Linked DNA regions of Homo sapiens. The protein of the gene in region 1 purifies or fractionates together with the protein of each later gene. This does not show direct contact. Each region holds a gene or a part of one and is shown on either strand. Other genes may lie near its edges. The genes, in order: RNPC3 and USP33.

The links.
Region 2: the proteins of RNPC3 (region 1) and USP33 purify together in Homo sapiens (co-immunoprecipitation; one large-scale study listed by IntAct). This does not show direct contact.

The regions. Positions count from the first base shown.
Region 1 is NC_000001.11:103,528,479-103,532,514, reverse strand, and holds part of RNPC3 (RNA-binding region-containing protein 3), read right to left. Parts: intron 1-4,036. UniProt on the Homo sapiens protein: Participates in pre-mRNA U12-dependent splicing, performed by the minor spliceosome which removes U12-type introns. U12-type introns comprises less than 1% of all non-coding sequences. Binds to the 3'-stem-loop of m(7)G-capped U12 snRNA.
Region 2 is NC_000001.11:77,753,353-77,756,852, reverse strand, and holds part of USP33 (ubiquitin carboxyl-terminal hydrolase 33), read left to right. Parts: intron 1-3,500. UniProt on the Homo sapiens protein: Deubiquitinating enzyme involved in various processes such as centrosome duplication, cellular migration and beta-2 adrenergic receptor/ADRB2 recycling.

The DNA.
Region 1 (4,036 bases):
AATTTATAATTTCAGCACAGACTTCTGTCCTGAAGTCAAGGAACACATATTCAAATAATGGATAGCGCCCCATAGATATCTAACAAACATTTCAAATTCAACATTTCACTTAATCTTTCCCCCAGCCCCAAATGTGCTCCACCAGGAGCCATCTCTATTTCAGTTGATAGCAACTCCATTCTTCCAATTATTCAGGTCAAAAATCTTGTAATCATCCTTAATGCTTCTTTCCTACATTCCATATCCAAGTCATTAAGAAATCCTGTTTGCCTATACCATAAGGCCATAGTCATCAAAACAGCATGGTACTGGTATAAAAATAGGCACATAGACCAATGGAACAGAATAGAGAACACAGAAATAAACCCAAATACTTACAGGAAACTGATCTTCCAGAAAGCAAACAAAAACATAAAGTAGGGAAAAGACACCTTATTCAACAAATGGTGCTGGGATAATTGGCAAGTCGCATGTAGAAGAATGAAACTGGATCCTCATCTCTCACCTTATACAAAAATCAACTCAAGATGGATCAAGGACTTAAATCTAAGACCTGAAACCATAAAAATTCTAGAAGATAACATCAGAAAAACCCTTCTAGACATTGGCTTAGGCAAAGACGTCATGACCAAGAACCCAAAAGCAAATGCAACAAAAACAAAGATAAATAGATGGGACTTAATTAAACTAAAAAGCTTCTGCACAGCAAAAGAAACAATCAACAAACAGACAACCCATAGCGGGAGAAAATATTTGCAATCTATACATCCAAAAAAACCACTAATGTCCAGAATCTACAAGGAATCCAAACAAATCAGCAAGAAAAAAAACAATCCCATGGGCTAAGGACATGAATAGACAATTCTCAAAATAAGATACACAAATGGCCAACAAACATGAAAAACTGCTCAACATCACTAATGATCATGGAAATGCAAACCAAAATCATGAGGCAATACCTCCTTACTCCTGCAATAATGGTCATAATGAAAAAATCAAAACATAATAGATGTTGGCAGAATATGTGGTGAAAGTGACTTTCACACTGCTGGTGGTAATGTAAACTAGTACAGTAAGTATGAAAAATAGTGTGGAGATTCCTTAAAGAACTAAAAGTAGACCTACCATTTCATCCAGCAATCCCACTACTGAGTATCTACCCAGAGGACAATAAGTCATTATACAAAAAAGACAGTTGCACATGCACGTTTATAGCAGCACAATTTGCAATTGCAAAAATACGGAACCAGCCCAAATGCCCATCAATCAATGAGTGGATAAAGAAATTATGGTATATATATATATAACATGGAATACTACTCAGTCATAAAAAGGAACAAAATAATGGCATTTGCAGCAACCTAGATGGAATGGGAGACCATTATTCTAAGTGAAGTAACTCAGGAATCAAAAACCAAACATCGTATGTTCTCACTCCTAAGTAGGAGCTAAGCTATGAGGACCCAAAGGCATAAGAATGATACAATGGACTTTGAGGACTCAGGAGAAAGTGTTGGGAGTGGGGGTGAGGGATAAAAGACTTCACAATGGGCACAGTGTATATTGCTTGGGTGACAGGTACATCAAAATCTCAGAAATCACGACTAAAGAACTTATTCATGTAACTAAACACCACCTGTTCCCCCAAAACCTACTGGAATAAATACAGTAAGAAATCCTTGCTTCTACCTTCAAAATATATAAAGAATCTAATCACCGCTAACCACTACCATTGTGGTCAAGGCAACCATCAATTCTGGACTGAATTACCACAATATTTTAACGGATTTCCCTGTTTCTACCTTTCCCTCCCTTCAGTCTAGTCACAACAGCAAAAGCAATTCTTTGAAATACCAAGGTCACCCCCTTGCTCCAATGGCTCCCTATTTTACTGACAGCAATCTAAGTTCCTTACTATAATCTACATAATATAGATTCTATGACTTCTCTGACTTCAAATCCAATGATCACTCCCACTCCTGCTCCCACAGATCACTCCCACTATGTCTGCTCCAGTCACAGTGGCTTCCTTGAACAACGTGACAGGCATGGTCACATCCTAGAGCCCCTGTTCCAGCTGTTCCTCTAATTCAAAGGTACTTCTCCCAGAAATTTCATTAGCTAACTCCCTTCGCATCCTTCAAATTGTTGTTCAAATATAACCCTAACTACAGCCTGACCTCTCCCCACTTAGCACTCCTGATCTTATTGCTCTACTTGTCCTTTTTCCATAGCATTTATCATCTTCTAAAATATTAAAGTTTATTATTTATTGTCTGTCTCCCCTTTTGAGAATATGAACTATAATCATCTTTGTCTTCACATATAATCCCAAAACCTAAATCAGCATCTAGCACATAGTAGGTACTTAATATTTTTGAACACATGAAAGTACAAGCCTTAACCAGAGACCGGTTTTGTGCAAGACAATTTTTCCACAGGCTGGGGTGGGGGGTGGGGAGAAGATGGTTTCGAGATGAAACTGATTCATCTCGGATCATAAGGCATTAGTCAGATTCTCATTGAGAGCGCAACCTAGATCCCTTGCATGTGCAGTTCACAACAGGGGCCAAGGCACTGCTGATCTGACTGGAGGTGGAGCTCAGGCAGCCAGGCGGAGTCGCCCTGAATAGAGATAAAGCTTCCTCAGCCTGCCAGTCACCTCCTGCTGTGCGGCCCAGGTTCTAACAGGTGGTGGTTAGGTACCAGGCCGTGGCTGGGTACCAGTCTGTGTCCCAGGGTTTGAGGATCCCTGCCTTACATCATCATACAAAGTTAATTTTAAAATGTTTCAATAATTTTCAAGACCCTAAATGAACTTTAGACCTCTTTATTATCAGTGAAGCCTTGATTATCTGAAATGAAGGTCATCTAACCTGACTTACTCCAACTTTCTTCTTCTCAAATGGGTATCACATATGTTCTTATTTTCAAAGATTTATGGTTTTTCATTTTTAATGTTAACTCCTCCTACCTGACTCGGCTACTTACTCTATTCTTGAACATTTCTCCCTTTGTTTTCTTAATCTATCACTTTCCAATTAGGCCAAATGCTCTCTAGCCTAAAAGCCCTATCAATATTGCCGTTAACCTCTTACTGCTTCCTTTCACTACAGACATTTCCAAAGACAATGACTGGCTCCATGTCCTCTCCTCCAAGTTATTCTTGACCCTAAAACAATGCGTTTTTCATTACCATACTTTATTTACAATGTATTATGATATATTTTTAAAAATACTTTTTTTCTGAAAAAAAATTACCTACCATTATAAAAGTACATATTAATATAATATGAAAGCCCTCTGTAATCCTACTCTCAGAGAAAGATGTTTTTAACATTTTGGTGTATAGTTCTGCCATATTTTTTCTGTGTATATGCTAACATGTATACTATTAGTTTCAAAAAATCTGAGGTTACATCATATATAATGTTTCACAACTTTATTCATGTACTCTATCTGGGCTATCATTCCATATTAACACATACCATTTGACATCATTCTCAGACAGTTGCAGTCCAGTATATGGATATAATGTGATTTAAGGCTTCCCTTCCTTTTACCGATGAGAATTTGGGTCATTTCTATTGTTTCATGGCAAAAAGACTTTAATAGATGTGTTCATTCCTCATTTTGCATCATCACAGGATTTCATCTTCTTAAAACACACTTCTCTTTGCATCAGTGATAATTTCCTTTCTAGTTCTCCTACTTTAACTGCTCCTTCCCATTCTTCTCTCCTAGCTTATTATCCTTTGGGCAAACATATCTATTCACATGGTTGAAGAATCTTTCCATTCTTCACCTTGCCTCAGCTCTCATTAATATTTTTAAATATTTCCATAAAAGTAGCCCAATGACCCCTCCAAGTTAACAGATGACAAGTGAATTCATCCTATGCCTTTGCAAACATCCTCTGGATCCTCATGTCAGCTAATATAACAACCCAAATAACTCAATCCTCAATCTAAATATCCTGAACTATTCTCTCTCAACCCCTATATTATAAAACCTACAAACTCAATCTCTATTGAAT
Region 2 (3,500 bases), about 26 Mb from region 1:
GTGACCATTATTTTTGTAGCCCTTATGGTTTCTCTGAAGTGCATCTTGAACTTGGACCTGAGATGACATGGGTGCAGGTGAGATGCTATAAAGCACAAGTGAGGAAGCAGGTAGAATCAGAGAAGGAGGAAAAAAGGTTAATAGTGGAAGGCCAACTGGAGGCTGCTTAAGCCTTTGGAGATTTTTGTATAACTGCCTCAGAGTTTTGTATAACTGCCCCAAATGAAGGGGAGCTGGGTGGTTTTCCATCTACAGTCAATCCTCACTGATAAAGATTGCCTTTATCTAAAAGGCTCCCAGAACTTCCCAGGTACACTGGTTAGGTAGGGCTTGGCAAGCTCCTGAGGTGCTGGAGAGCTGAGGAGAGAAGTAGTTGAGATGGGAAGTTGTCAGTGTGTTAACTGTGCATACCAGCTACAAGTAAACATTGAAGTGAGCTGAAAGGAGATGGTCCAGGTATCAACTCTGTGTCTTAACAGGCATTCTCATTGAATAATCCAGATGTGAAATAAAAGCCTCAATTTAGATAGAGACCTAGAAGAAATGTGAGATGAAATGTGGTTAAAAAAAAAAATGCCGAATTTAGAAACTGATAGAAAGTGAGGAGGGGAGCCAGGTGCTGTGGCTTGAGCCTGTAGTCTCAGTCACTTGGGAGGCTGAAACAGGAGATTTGCTTGAGCCCAGAAGTTCAAGTCCAACCTGGGCAATATAGAGAGCCTCCCATTTCAAAAAAAGTAAATGAAAAAAGTAAGGAGGGATCTAAGATGGTACTGAGGTTTAAAAGTTAGTTAACTTGTGAAAAAGAAGGGTTGACAGAAGGACACTGACTTTCAAATTAGTTTTTTAAGGAAAGTGAAAAAATTGCATAGTATTCAGGAGAGTGATGATAAGAGTGTTGATGACCAGTCATTCAAAAGGAAAGCAGGGTGGAGACTTGAACAATGCTGCCATCCCCACAAACTTATAATGTCTGGCCCATGCTGGATTATAAGCATTTGTTAAATTAATTTCTATCCCCCAGGGCTTATCACAGTCCTGAAATACAGTAATGTGGTGAAACTATAGGGCTGAATGTGACCTAAAATAAGACCATTTCCCACAGGTTTTAACTTTTATAAAATCCTAGAAGAGGAATTTCTTATATATTTTACTTTTTTGTGAAAGGGTCTCACTCTTGCCCAGCCTGGCGTGCAGTGGTGCGATCTTGGCTCACTGCAACCTCCACCTCCTGCGTTCAAGCAGTTCTCACCACTCAGCCTCTGGAGTAGCTGAGATTACAGGCGCACGCCACCATACCCAGCTAATTTTTGTATTTTTTGGTAGAAATGGGGGTTTCACCATGTTGGCCAGGCTGGTCTCAAACTCCTGACCTCAAGTGACCCTCCCACCTTGGATTCCCAAAGTGCTGGGATTACAGGCATGAGCTGCCATGTCTGGCTGGAATTTCTTATATTTTTTATGGAAGCATTACTGTGTTTAGATGAATCAGTTTTGATTAGTTTTAAAATCAATATTATAGTCTGGTAAACAATAAAAGAATTGATAATTTTTCTTATGGTGGTTCTCATTTGAATATGGTGATAGCATTTGTTTTCTCATATTCTTTCTTTCTTTTTTCTTTTTGCTCACAAGCTGAACTGAAGATTTAGGTTTTTCCATGTTTCTATGTGGTTTACATGAATATTTTTAATGACTGTTCCGTAATGCCAGTATATTAACTCTTCATCTTGCTCAAAAGTGAGACTTAGAGTGAAAATTATCATCAGCTTATTTGAGACTCTGTTAGAACTCTGTCATATTCATTAATTCATTTCTATTTCCTCTCTCTTCCAATATTTCTCAAAATTATTTCAACGAGATAAGGCTAGAATTGACCATATTTTGCCATTCATTATTGGACAGATTTTTAAAAATCTTTATAGGAAATGCTAATTAATATTTACAAATCTCATTTAGAGGATGTTATTTGGAATGAAGATTGCCAGATTGGAGCTATACTTTGGTATTATTAATAGTGGTAATGTTAAGAATAGATTGTAGAACACATAGGTTGTAGCCAGAGAACTCAGTTAGAAGACTGCGTATTTCTTTTAATAGCCTTAAGGCTCTCATTAATTAGACTCTTAAGGATCAATGAGACAGATTTTCTAGTAAAAGAGAAATAAAAAGATTAGCACTACATTTCTTTTTCTGTGTTGTGGTTTTGAATGAAAATTAAGAATGATTAGGTAAGTATTATAGGACTTTGTGGGATCTTCAAATCCTCACAGAGGTTTGAATGATTTTATTCTCAGAATATTTGTTTAAAGGGAAAGAAACAGTTATTTAAAATGCTTGTCAGCTGATTTCTTTTGTGAAAAGTCTCCCTGAGCACTTACTATGGATTGAGAATAAAATAAACTTTTCTGCTTGTTGTTGCACTCTTCATTGATAACTTCCTTCCATTCATCAGTTTTTTTGGCTTGCTTTTATTGGGTAGCAATTTTCTTCCATGATAAATATGGAAAGATAAGCCATAAGCTTATTCCTTCATTGTATTTTTGCTAAAGTGTAATATTTCATATGGTACTGCTGGACTAGTACTCGTGGAACCATAGTCTAGATTGAAACTGTTGAAAGACAAATCAATTTTTTTATAATCATAGAATCTTAATTCAATTCTGAGTTTTTAGTGCAAAGTGCTTGCTGTCCTTTGAAGCACCTCTGACAGTTACCCAACCTCTGTGTAACAATTATGGGGAACATGCTCCTTCCATGAAAGTTCATCTGTATTTGAACCGAAGTCTTCACCGTTGATTGAATATGCTGTTCTGACTTTCTCAAGTTGCACAGAAAAGAAAGGATCCCTTTGGTCATCATGTTCAATTGGAACATGTGTATCAAGTCCTGGCATCTTTTGCCTTCTGCTGTTTAAACATCCATGCTTTCAGTTCGTAATGGTTGACATTTACTGAGTACTTACTATATCACCCTCTTCTAAGTATTTTATATATACTAATATATAATATGTAATTATATATTAACGTATTATGTGTAATTATATAATTAGTTTAAAATATTATATATTAATCTTCTCCAAAACTCTAGAAAGTAGATATTTGTAATTAGATCAGTGTTTTAGATGAGGGAGCTAAGGCAAAGAGAAGAAACTTACCACTGGTCCCAAATCTAGGAGATAGTGGAGCCTTGCTCCAGAAACTTTACTCTTAGTACAGTGCTATCTTATAAGATACAGTTTTCAAATTATTTCTTTTAAGGTTTTCTATGAGAGGCACTCTTATTCTGTAGCTTTTAGTATTCTTCTTAAATAAAATACTGTATTCCAGATATAATCTACTTATTTTATGCGAACATTAAGATTGGCTATTATTTTTTCCCCTTTTCACCACTCTATTCAATTAAAAAATTATTATTTTTTTTTTGTAAAGATGGGGGGTGGGTATCACTCTGTTGCCTAGGCTGGTCTTGAACTCTTGGCCTCAAGCGATCCTCATGCCCCT